Linked DNA regions of Homo sapiens. Each later gene encodes a partner of the first gene's protein in a complex. Each region holds a gene or a part of one and is shown on either strand. Other genes may lie near its edges.

Region 1 (7,213 bases):
TAAATTATGTTAACTTGATTCTACTATGAAGTATAGTCTTATACTATGCTGTAAACACATGTCCCTAGAAAAGTTTTTGATGGTTCACTTTTATTCATTCAAAAGACTGCAGATGGGCGCTCTCATTGTAAAATTTTCACTCATTTTGATAATAATCTTATATTCAGGTTCTTGGTAGTTTTCTGGATATGATTTTATTCTATTAGATCACCAACTGATAGAAATTTCCATATAATGAGCTGTCACATCTTAGCATTTACAAAAGATCTGGACATTTCATCCAGTCTGACAACTTATTTCACTGTGGTGGAGAAGTCTTTGTTTTTCAGCTTCAGACTTCCATTGCTAAATAATAGTTTTTTATTTGAAATAAACATGTTGCCATTTATCCCTACACTTTATATGTATGAATAATCTTGACTTTTAAATTAGTTTAAAAATCGGTTAAAAGTTAAAAAACTAAAAATGTGATTTGGAGGACATCAGAATAATGATATATTTCTGATATGTATTTGTGTACATACTTAAAGAGAAAGATGCATGTTAAAACTTTCACAAAACACTTGTACTTCCTCTGTTTAAGGCTCTGAGCTAGAAGTAGTAGGATTCTGAATAGGGCAAGCCTATATTGGACTCCATCCAAAGGTTTGTATATATTGAAGTATCAAAAGAGCCTTCATCTTTTCATCTTTCATGAATGGTTTTACCTCTAAAATGGTCCCATTACACAGACCTAAGAATAGAATTTGAACGACATGTCATTTTGTTTTTGTTTTTTTATGAAAATCTGTAGCTTTCTTGGCCTTTTGAAATGGTAACTGGGTAGAGCATTTCAGTGTATTATTAAAAACTTGATAACTTAGAGCAAAATAGACCCGTTACTCTAGAAATCTTATTTTTGTGACAATTCCATATGTAGAGCTTAATCGTGTAATTTTTGTGATGTTGCTGGTTTGCCCCTTTGAAGCTTGACCTCAGAGATGATGTGGTGAAAATTACAATCGATTGGAACAAGCTCCAGAGCCTCTCGGCATTCCAGCCTGCATTGCTCTTTAGTGCACTTGAACAACACATTTTATATTTACAGGTAAATTTCTTGTTAGAAATGATAACCCGATATTGAAAATAGAAATTGATTGTGGTTAAGTTAGTTGGAGTATTTGACAGTTCTAAACACTATATTAATAGTGTTGCTAATAAAACGTTATTTACATCCGGATTTAATCTAAATCTGTTAATTTCAGTAGTGATCAGGACAGTTAAGGGAATATAGCCCAAAAGACCAATGTGGGTATGAGTGAATGAATGCAATTCTATTCAATTCTAGACCTGCACTGAAAATTCAATACAGTTCCATCTATGGTGGGTTATAATTAAGCAATAAGACACGGCAGGTGTGTGTCATGCTATGATAATGATTCCATGCCTTGGGTGAGTTTGGAGGCTCATGGAGTGCTTTCAGTGGTTCAAGAAGGGGCATTATCCCAGCATGACACATCCTGGAGTGTCTATTGCAATTAAACAGTTTCAGCATAGTTTTTAAAAAGAAAGTAATTTCTATGACATTAATGTCTCATCTTAGTAAGTAGCCAGTCACTATTTTATCATTTCTTTTCCTTAACAGTTTGAAATAATTCATTCTTTATATTAGAAGTTAATATTGAATTGGTATTTATAATAGTGTTGTTATATTTTTAAATATTTCATGTTAATAACTGAACAGTATTATGACCTTGCTGGTTTCTAATTGAACATCTTTGCAATTATAATTGATGTAAGTTTGCAGTTTATCTCTAATCAAAGTGTAAAATGTGAAGTGTCAAAAAGATAAGTGGAAAAACTGGATTGGTCAGTTTACTGTGATTAAGGTGTTATAAGATTTCAAAAGAGTAGTATAGCGAACAATGGAAGCAAAATTGTAGGTATGAAAAAAATAATTGGAACGTTATTAGTGTTAGTGTGTTTTGACTAATGGAATAGGCATTAATTTTCAGCCCTCCATTCATTGACTTTGTGGGAAATTTTAACTGTTTCATGTTAAAAGTAATAGTTAACCCTGTTTTTAAAGGGCAGAGCAGTGAGCTCTAGAACTCAAATGAGACCTCATTGTGGGGAGTGGGGGAGGGGAACAGTAAATGAGTAATATAGTTTAAATTCTACAACAGGGGTTTTCCCCCTGTAGTATAGTGATAGGCCTCTGCCTGTTTTCAGCTATAGATCTTTTTTTTTTCTTGTTCGTTTTCTTTTTTAAAATTTAATTTTATGACCAAAAGATATCTTGCCATGTCAGGAAAAGTCTGAGTGTTCACTCAGCCTAACACCTATATATTTCATGTCTATGCTTCCTCATTCACATTGGCCAACTGCAGTTTCAAGTGGAGAATCTCCAGTGATACAGTGATAATGCAGGGCTTTGCTGAGTGAGAGCACTAGCTCTCGTGTTAAGGAGGAAAAATACTAAGCCTTAGTGTTCTGAGGAGGCATTTGAATGACATGTTAATTAAGTGGCATTGGTGCCAGAGGCTGAAGGCTTTGATTTGGCACAAAATAAAAGATGAGTGACAGAATGATTCTCTCAAAGAAAATTTTAAATTTCCTTAGGTTTTCTTTTCTTTTTTCTTTTCTTTTTTCCTCTCTCCTTTTTTAAAAAACAAATTTATAGCAAATGATAATGGTTACAATAGCAGAGAATAGTGAGTACTTATATGTGGTCAGATCTATGTGTCCTGGTATACCAACTTTTTATATTTATTAACTGATATTAAGTATTTCATTTACTTAGCAGAAATTTATGTAAATATATTAAGTGTGTAATTAATTTTGGTCAGATTGAACCTCAGCAGATGGAATTGTGTTGTTCTCAGCCTTTTTTAGCAAAACTTCAGTCTCCGATTAAAGAGGAGAATACAACTGCTGTTGAAGAGATAGGAAGAACAGAAATGGGGAACAAAAATGAAGTAAATGACAAATTTTCCATTGGCGACCTACAAGAGGAAGAAAAGCACAAAGAAAGTGATTTAAGAGATGTGAAAAAGACACAGATCCATTTTGATCCAGAAGTAGTTCAGATAAAGGCTGGAAAAGCAGAAGTAAGAAGGTTTTTTGGCGGGGGCGAGAGGGTATTATTTTAAAAAATCTTATGTTTACACTGTTAAAACTTGTTGTTTGTAGATTGACAGACGAATATCTGCATTTATTGAAAGAAAGCAAGCTGAAATCAATGAAAACAACGTCAGGGAATTTTGCAATGTTATTGATTGTAATCAAGGTAACTACCTGGAAATTAATTTTCATAGGGTTTTAAGCACAATTTTTATAGTTGCTCTAATCTTTTATTTATTTTTTAAATGAATAGCTTTTAGAACACAATTCAATTTATTTCATGGATTTAGTTAGTAATTAAGACAGTAGAGTTTCCTTCTGCTTAATAATAGACTATATTGCAAACTGGTTTTCATTTTGGTTACACAAAGTAAATGCTAACATTAAAAAGTGTTTATCACAGGTGAAGATTATTTTAAAGTTCCTTTAGGAAATGAAGGTGAGGTACGAGTGAGAAGGTTGATCTATCTCACTAGTAAAAGGAACTGAGCTCTATGAATTTCAAACCTATACATGTACTGTGAAATCATGATGTTAATACGTAAGTGAACTTAGTAAAGTTAATATTCCTCCAGAGGGAGCAGTTTTCTCACTACTCCTGAGCTGTTTGAAATGTCCTGTGTCACGATACAACCAATTTATCATGAAGACCATGGTGTCTTGCTTTTTTCCTTTCTGCCATAGTGCATACATTTGCTGTTTTTCATCTGATTCACCTTTACCTCTCTACTTGATGCTATAGTACATTTACAAATCTGCAAGTATGCTGCAGAATACAAAATATTGCAATGCAGTGCCATAGATTATACTCAGGCACCATAGTAATAATCAGAACAAGTAGTTCTTAGGAAAAATTATGGAGAAGAGTTCATAATTGGAATGAACATGTTTCTTGTTGCCTCTAATATCTCATGGCTAATTATTATGAACATAGAATTGTCAGATGAACCTAGAAATGACTCATATCACATTGGTACACTGATTCTCTTAATGAAATAATATAGGCTGGTATTGGGTCCTGAATTTAGCTGTGTGCTACTATTAACATTACACATGTGCATCTCTAAATTTGGTATATTTTCCTGTTAGCTTTTCAGAACAGGTGCAACAATGGCAAAATCTCAGGTACTACAACCAACTACAAGCGACTATGAGAAAGGGTTTGTTGAGAGAGCAAGCACATGTGTCACTAATGTTATTCCTCTGTTCTCCCTGCTAACTCTATTATTATAAACCACCAGGGGATAGAAATTGACGAGAATTGAAATGCTCAGCAGGATTCCTTGGCCCATTCAATTCTTTGCTGGCTCAAAACAGTGCTAGCAAGAATTGCTGTGGAGAGTGACTAGCAGTCATACACTCACACCATGCTGAATTTCTCACTGATGGTCAGTTAATCTATATGTTTGGAATATAGTTCTGGAATGGATGATAGCTTCTTTTTTTAACCCTTAGCCCCATGAAATGGTAGGAAGAGAATGGAGAAAGGATGGCCCTTTAAGCATATTTTGAGGTGCCTCCAAAAAAAAAAAAAAGGAGGAAAGATGTCTATTTAGTCTCTAGATATAAAAGCTAAGTGGATTTGGAATTTTATGCATACTATTTGATTTATCAACAGAACTACTAAGGAAAGTTCAACTGAAAAAAATACAAATGTATTTTAATATGTTAGTGTGTTCCTTTTAATACCTACAAATTTAACCTAACTATAAGCAGTGGAATTTTTAAAAATCAAATTTCATAGGGGGGAAAAAATAATTTTTTTTAAAGAATCTCATTTACCAGCCATTTTTTACAAAATATTCAGGGGAATTTTACAGGAGATTTACTGCCAATGTGTGGCCTTTAAACATTATTTCAAACATAAGTATATATTATTACTATGTAGTATCGTATGTTAATATATAACAATTATGTTAATTAGTTGTATTATATGTTAACATCTTTCCAATTTTCCCCTTTTGTAATTTATGCATTGATACTTAATTTGAAAGAAACTACTTTTCAGCTTGGAAAAAAATAGGGACAAATTTTCACAATAGACCTTTACTAAAATGAAACTTTTTTGAAAAGTGGTGGGATAAGAAGAAGTAGATGACTTTTGTGATGAAGGGTTTTTAAAATGAGCACTGGAAATCTAGGTAGAGTGGAAATGTATGTGTACTTGAGGTTTTGAGGTCATCTTTGTGTGGAGTTCTGAAATAAAAATGTTAAATAATTCTTTTTGTTGGATGTTCACTAATTTGGTCATTAAAATAAAAAATGCTGAATTAAAAGAATTCTAGTAAAAATGATGAGTTTTATTTCTACGATGAAGTAGAATTTAAATACTCTATGGTAGATTATTTTCTCCAGTGGCCCAAATAGTGACATTGGTTTTCAAAATTGTATCAATTTGTGCCACTTAATGTTGATGGCTTTTCTGTATATAAATCTGAACATTAGGTAAGAATATTAGATATTATGATAAATTTTGACAGGTAAAGAAGGTCACTAAATTCTATCCTATGTGTGATAGTAATTTATTGTTACTATTATTTATTAAAATTATTATGAGTAAAATGTTAATATGAATTATTGAAAGTTTATTAAAATCTCATACATTTGAAGGGAAGAATATATTTAAACTTATATTTATCTAAATTCTCCTTAGAAAATAGTTGTGCAAGAACTGATGCGATTTTTACCCCTTACCCCGGATTTAAAAGTCACGTAAAAGGTAAGTAACCACCACATGACATCTGAGTCACTGACAGAAGTCTAGATTATTAGCAAAATGGAATAGAAATAACTTTCCCATCTAAATTTTATTTTAAAACAAAAACATCTTGCCGTCCTTCATACTTGTGGTTAGATGGTCTTTATGAAAAAAATATAAAGTGCTGTTAAGGAATAAGAATTTCTGATTTTTGAAATACAAATGTATATAGGCTCAAAAGTTTCTTAATTTAGTTTCTAGAGTTGTGAATACATACGGACCACAGACTAGACCTGAAGGAATTCCAGGGTCAGGTCATAAACCTAACAGCATGCTTCGAGACTGTGGTAATCAGGCTGTAGAAGAACGACTACAAAATATTGAGGCCCACTTGCGGTTACAGACAGGTAAGCAAAGTGCTAAGTGGCACCTCATAATGAACCTTTGCAAATGGTTAAAAAATTGCAGTTCATTTAGTCACCAAATTTTCATTTAGCTCCTAACATTTCTTGAACAGTAAGTGCCAGTCACTCAGGAAGTGTTATGTGTATGTCAATTCACTTAAAAGGTCATAGTACCCTTTTGAGATGGTGGTGGTGTTATCACTGTACAGATAAATAAATTGAAGTTTAAAGAGCCCAAGCAAACATGCCTAAGATACTAAGTGACAACTCTAAAAAAAAAAGAAAAAAGAGATAGTCCAGTCTTGCCCAGGTTGTACTTGAACTCCTAGGCTCAAGTAATGCTCCTGCTTCAACCTCCTGTGTCAGTGGGACTACAATCATGTGTCACTACTGCACCCTGCTCAAACCCAAGTCCTCACTGGGTGCAGAGACTGAGTCTCCCTCTCCATTTAGTCACCATGTCTGTTGATTCTGTTTTCTAAATAAATATCTCTCAAATCTGCCCACTTCTGTCTTATCTCTACTGCTACTACTAGAGTTGAAGCCACTGTGATCTCTGGCTTGGACTGATGGAAGGATATTTACTGGTTTCTTTGCCACTGGACTCCTCTAGATCATCTCTACCCTGTGGCCAGATTGCTTTTTCTAAAGCTCAAATTTGATCTTGTTTCTTCCCAGCTAAAAATGTGGAGATTGGGATTGAAGGGGGTTTGTAATTTTAAATAGTATTGTCCACATCTGTAGTTCCAGCTACACCTCTGGGCTTCCCATCTCCCACTCGTTGTGCTGCTTTAGGATCTTTATACTCATGCCCTTCTGTCCATGCTTTTTCTTCCTAATCCTAGACCAGTGCAGATTCACCTTTTGTATAATCTTATATAGCACCTGGTATTCCCTGCTCCCCTTTAAAGCAGTTATCATGGTTCTGTTTGTTTAATGTCTGTCTCCTGCTAGATAGTCCGTGAGAGTGCAACTATGTCTGTCATATTCATTTCTTTGTACCTATTAC
Region 2 (5,886 bases), on another chromosome or scaffold:
TGGGCAGGCACAGTGAGAAGCAGTTTGTGAGCCTGCTCCAAGCTCATTGTGTCTCTGGTGTTCCCCAAATGCCCCGCAAAGTTGAGTGTTCCCTCTTCTGGCCTCCAAGGCACTGGAGATGCATCCTCATGTCTGACTCCTTGGGGTGAATCTGATGCTGTATCTGTTTCCTCACTGTTCATGAAGGCACCTAGCACAGTCCCTGGTGGGTACAGAGGGCTTTGGCCTGATGAATGTTCAGAGTGAATTTTAGATTTCATACATAAAAGTATAGCTGTAATCAAGCCAGCTTCGTGTAAAACAGTGCAGGTTACTTTAAAGTTTCAAGCAGATCAAAGAGTTTATATGAGTCAAAAAGCTAGGAATAATACCAGGTATTTTTCTTGACTTGAATTTGTTTATCTTCTGTGGTACCGGAGGCGTGATTATGAAACAAAGCCACCCAAACTGCAGCTCCTGTCACAGATTCGTTCCCACCTGCACAGGAGCGACCCTCACTGGACGCCGGAGCCCGACGCACCTCTCGATTACTGTTATGTGCGGCCAAATCACATCCCAACGATCAACTCCATGTGTCAGGAGTTTTTTTGGCCTGGTATGTTCCCCCTCCCAAACCAGGCAGGTCATTTTTCTGTACAGTCCATTCTAGCAATTTTTAAAATTAGTTTATGTGATATCCTTAAGATTTTTATTTATGATTTCGTTTAGTTTGTCTCTGCTAACATGGAAATATTAAAATACAAATACCTCTTGCTTTCCCAAAATCTAGAAGAAGCCAGCAATAAACAGTGTTTTTGTTTGTTTCTCTTCCCTGTTTGTCTCTGTTTCCAGAGTAAAAGATTCATCCTGTTTTGCTTCTGCATATGTTTAGATACCAGGTAATGTCTATCAAAGATACACAGACTGGTAGCTTGGGCGTGTTTGGACACTTTTGTTTTTGGCTTAATAATTCTTTATGTTTTGTTTATTTAGCTGTTCCTTAGAGAGTATTAGTACAGCCAGAAGGTGTTTTTTAAAAGCCAAATGCCCTGATCACAGACTGAGAATAAGGGTAAACCCAATATAATTTGTCATTTTATCAGCCTTAACAAAATTGCCTCTGAAGACCAAAGTCATTAATTAAAGGAACACATTTGCATTGCTAAATATAAACTATTCTTTGTGGATCTGCTTTCCCACGCTGCCTTGAAACCTAAAGGAAATAATACATGTCTTTCAGATGTTAGATACGATTTCATCAAGATAGAGCTGTGTCGTCTTTATTGTCACATAATCACATAACTGTGAATGTGGTGGCAGAGCTGCACTCATTCTTTTGGGAGTCATACTGAGCCAAAAGTAACATTCTGGGAGCATCTCCTGCTTCCTGCCCTTATGTTAGGTGCCTTCCATACATTATGCACAGAAGCATATTTTACTTATTTATTGTGAAAGGTAGCATTTGTACAAAAGAACTTATAAATTATATGTGTGGGGGGTAAAGGATGTGATAGAACACGCTCGGAGGATCTTTACTTAACCCTGTCAGGTCTAGGTATGCTCTTCATCTTACATATTGCAGAAACGGAGTCTCTGAGACATTTTGAAATGTGCCAAGCCACACATGGTAGAGGAGGCTGAGTTCAAAGCCAGCTGTGTCCAATTCTGAACCCGTGCACTGCTACCTACCCTATTCTGCCACTCTTCTTTTAGGAAATACTATGTAATTTCAATATTTTCTAAAATTCACTCTTATTTTTATGATCTGGTTGTGTGGTCTCTATGTTACCTCCAGTTTTGGTGTTTTTTTTTTTTTTTTTTAGCATGCAGGTGTAGCTATATGTACATGCTGAACAGCTTGGTGTTCCTTAATTCTCAAAGGCATGTGGTTTGAGTCTCCGATGGTTTCTTTTCTTTAGGCATTGACCTGTCTGAGTGTCTGCAGTACCCAGACTTCAGTGTTGTTGTTCTTTATAAAAAAGTCATCATTGCCTTTGGCTTCATGGTTCCTGATGTGAAATACAATGAAGCTTACATTTCATTTCTGTTCGTCCACCCTGAATGGAGAAGAGCAGGGATTGCAACTTTCATGATCTATCATCTGATTCAGGTAAGTTGTCTATGTTTATGATTTATCACCTGTGTCTGGGCTCCCCTGAACAACCTGGAGGAGGAATGAAGCTGAGCTAGCCCTTCCCAGCATGGCCCAATGGAATGGTTTCCTTGTAAACCAAGTGAAGAAAGCCAGTCATCAGCATTCATGAGGTTATCAAAGCACACAGTCAAAAATCTTCGACCCTCTAAAATAAGATTATTATTCAGACTCAGGTTTCATAGAAACCAGTTTGTGAACATGTGTATAAATAAAATGAGAAAATACCAAAAGCAAGAGCTTTAGGGTGGACTATTCATATTAGTAGTAGCTACTGCTCTTAGGATCATCACCTTCGCAACTCAGAGAAGTGAGGGTAGGACTATTATTTTTATTTTTTTAAATATTTGTAAACATTTTAGCACAACTGTATCAATAAGAATATGTATATATTTTTTGAGACAGGGTCTCATTCTGTCACCCAGACTGGAGTTGCACAATCATAGCTCACTGCAGCCTCAACCTCCTGGGCTCGAGTGATTTTCCCGCCTCAGCCTTCTGGGTAGCCAGGACCACAGGTGCACACTGCCATGCCCGGCTGATTTTTTGTAGGGACAGGGTCTCACTGTGTTGCCTGGTCTGTGCTTGAACTCCTTGGTTCAAGCAATCCTTCCACCTCAGCCTCCCGAGTGCTGGGATTATGGGCATGAGCCACTGTGCCTAGCTACATATTTTATTTTTGCTGATAGTTTGTAATTTTACTATCACTGTATAAGGCTGATATGAACCTTCTAAGATTTGATTCTAGTATTGAATTATAATTCATCCTTTAATATATTTGTATCACCTTTGAAGAAAATACACCATATATCACCATCAAAAAACATGCAAGGATTTTTTTCCCCTAGAATTTTTTTTAGTCAACTTTTACTTAGAAACCATTTGGTATGGAGGATTATATGTTTATGCAGGCAAGATTCCTTTTAAAGAGGAGATGAAGATGATAAAAGTTGTTTCTCCAATTTTTAATGAAACTTGCTTAATAATTCCCAAATGTTGGCAGGAACCTTGGAACCATTTTCCTAGAAATTGCTTTCCTTCTCTCCTTAGGCAGTGATTATGTAAATCACTCACTGAGTAATTAATATGTGCTACTTTGGGTGGTGGTTTTCTCTTGAGAGCTTCTCAGTTATTTCTACAACACTCCCTTTCTCTGCCCCATCCCAACCAAGAGTTGATCTCTCAGTATGCGTCTTTTTAACCTAGGAGAGCACTTAGAGGATTTGCTGCCGTATCTGTCACTGGTAAGGGCCTGAAGACAGGGCACGAATAGTACTCTGTCCTTGTGTGTGTGTGTCCTTGGTGCCCAACATGAGGGCTGGTACAGAGTCAGTCCCTGCTGAGTGTTTGCGAGGCCACTGGAGGAGTGGTTCATCTTTGCAGGTGGGCACCTTCCCCTCCAGCCAGACCATACCCCTGAGGGCCCAAACATAGGTGGCGCACAGTCGCTGGCACTCAATGATGGCCACGGTGAGATCACGTATATTTGCAATCTAGCAAACACCAATATGACCCCACAAAATTTGCTTTAAAAACTCACAAAGTGCTCTTGTCCCTGGCATACTGGTAAGTGCTCTCTTGTCCTAAAAATGCCTATGGATACACATGGAAGTTAAGCAGAGAAAGCAGGTAGCTATCAGATGACTGTCAACAGAGGAGTTCTTAGAGGCCTGAGAGAACCATGGGTTATAAATCTCAAGGACTCTATCAACTTCAGTATTTCAGTGCCTTCTTTATTAAAAAGTAAGTTCTTAAATGATATGACTTTTGGGACACCTTACTCTGTGTAGCTGATTAAAGAATCTAAGGACTTGCCTTGTGTTGATAGAATGATTGTTACTCTTTTCCCCTAAGATTAGGTCAAAGCTGAATGTAGAAATCTCAGTTCTAAGAAGCTAATTCTGTCAGTTTTAGAGAGACAGAAGGTGGACTTTGGGATTCAGAAGGTCTATACAAGGGCCTCAGGTTTTATAATTACATTCTTAATATTTCATGTTTGTGCATGTAATTTAGCAGGCCTAGTAAAGGAATTTTTACAGGTTTTGGGGAGGTACAAGATAACATCTAGTTTTAAAAAGCAAAACTTATTTTGTTTTGTATTTATTCAAGGTTATCATAGTGTTAGGTATTGAAATGTTTGACATATTTAAAGGTAATTGAGTTGTAAATAATAAAGCTGACAATAACAATATCCCCATTGACCCTTTGCTTCAAAGAAAAATAAAAAACACCCAGAATACTATCAGTTTCCTTGGTCTTGTGAATGTTTTGATCAGCAGCAAAATGTCATTCTGTTTCCAGCTGTTGCTAGGTGTTGCAATGTCTCAGCCTCAGTCTCTGATTTCTCCGGTTTCCATAACTAACTGCCTACACTTAAAAGCGTTTCTTTACCTACTCATTTTCCCTCAGGCCTTTCCATTTTTATCTTGTATTTTTCCACTCTTTTGGCAGACCTGCATGGGCAAGGACGTAACCCTTCACGTCTCAGCAAGCAACCCCGCTATGCTACTGTACCAGAAGTTTGGATTCAAGACTGAAGAATATGTATTAGATTTCTATGATAAATATTACCCATTGGAGAGTACAGAGTGTAAACACGCATTCTTTCTGAGGCTCCGGCGCTGATGCGAATACAGCTCACAGAGAAACGCATGTGCTATTGGAGAACAGGTCTTTGTGGAGATCTAAAGGCAGTGATTGATTTCACAGGGAGCTCTAATCTCTGTGATTACATGGTCCTTCAAACTCCCAACCAAAGTGAGAAAAGCGGCATGCAGTGAAATGAGCAGTGAGCAGCCCTTTAGCAAAATCGCCCTCCAGTCCTTCCTGGAGATGCCTTCAGCCAGCATCCCAGACTCCACAGTTATTTATGAATGATGTCGTGATTCTCCCTCCACCTGACAGTTTGTAAGAGTGAAAGAGCATCTAACCTGATGCTCTTGGAGAGAGATAACCTGTCTGTCATAACTTAAAGGATGAGAAAATGTGGTGTAGCTATTAAAGATTCATGCAGTCCCAAAAGGCACTGTCCTGGGATGATGAGAGATTATAAGGTGATTTCATAAAAGGAATCCAACCCTGTGCCCGGCCATTGATGTGTTGTCATTGAATCCAGGAGGATTTCTAGGGCACTGAAGTTTTGTTGTTTCTTTTGCTGACTTTGGTTACAGTCAGAAAAAATAAACTAGATGTTTGTGTCTACATGTTCTACCTGTTGTACCTATTAGCATCTTCCTGCAGGGACTTGGGCCCATGGCCTGGGAGGTTGGTTTGGGATTGGGGTTGTTGGGCAGCCTGCCATTCACCTGGCCTATCCTGGCCCTTCTCATGCCCAAGACAGTTGTTTCACAGGAGTGGAAGTGTGGGTGATGCAAGTAGAACCCTCTAGATGTACCCTGTGTGGTCTGCAGGACTGGACTGTTTGCTGTGTTTGTGGATGTTGGCGATAGACTGTCAATTAGGTTGTTTGTGATCCAACAAGAACATTTCCAAAAGTATCTAGGTGTTCTCAAATAAAAAGCTTTCTTTGCACAACCCATGGCCAGAGCGTCAATCTAGTCAGTTTGCTTTCAAACCCTCTTTAATTAAGATCAGTGGTTCTTAACTTTTTGGGACATGGATCACTTTGAGAATACAAAGAAAGCTGAATACTCTCTAGAAAACTGTCATGCACATTTAAAATTTTGCATCAGGGATCTGTCGACCACAAGTTAAGAACATCTGTTCTAGAAGCTGTACTTGCAGCCAGCTCGAAT

The links.
Region 2: MBIP (region 1) and KAT14 share a complex: the UniProt entries of both Homo sapiens proteins name them as parts of the ADA2A-containing complex.

Annotation. Positions count from the first base shown.
Region 1 is NC_000014.9:36,310,567-36,317,779, reverse strand, and holds part of MBIP (MAP3K12-binding inhibitory protein 1), read left to right. Parts: intron 1-967; coding exon 968-1,087; intron 1,088-2,864; coding exon 2,865-3,089; intron 3,090-3,171; coding exon 3,172-3,268; intron 3,269-5,755; coding exon 5,756-5,821; intron 5,822-6,054; coding exon 6,055-6,207; intron 6,208-7,213. UniProt on the Homo sapiens protein: Inhibits the MAP3K12 activity to induce the activation of the JNK/SAPK pathway. Component of the ATAC complex, a complex with histone acetyltransferase activity on histones H3 and H4.
Region 2 is NC_000020.11:18,182,704-18,188,589, forward strand, and holds the end of KAT14 (cysteine-rich protein 2-binding protein), read left to right. Parts: intron 1-419; coding exon 420-595; intron 596-1,898; coding exon 1,899-2,089; intron 2,090-4,582; coding exon 4,583-4,756; 3' UTR 4,757-5,332; downstream 5,333-5,886. UniProt on the Homo sapiens protein: Component of the ATAC complex, a complex with histone acetyltransferase activity on histones H3 and H4. May function as a scaffold for the ATAC complex to promote ATAC complex stability. Has also weak histone acetyltransferase activity toward histone H4.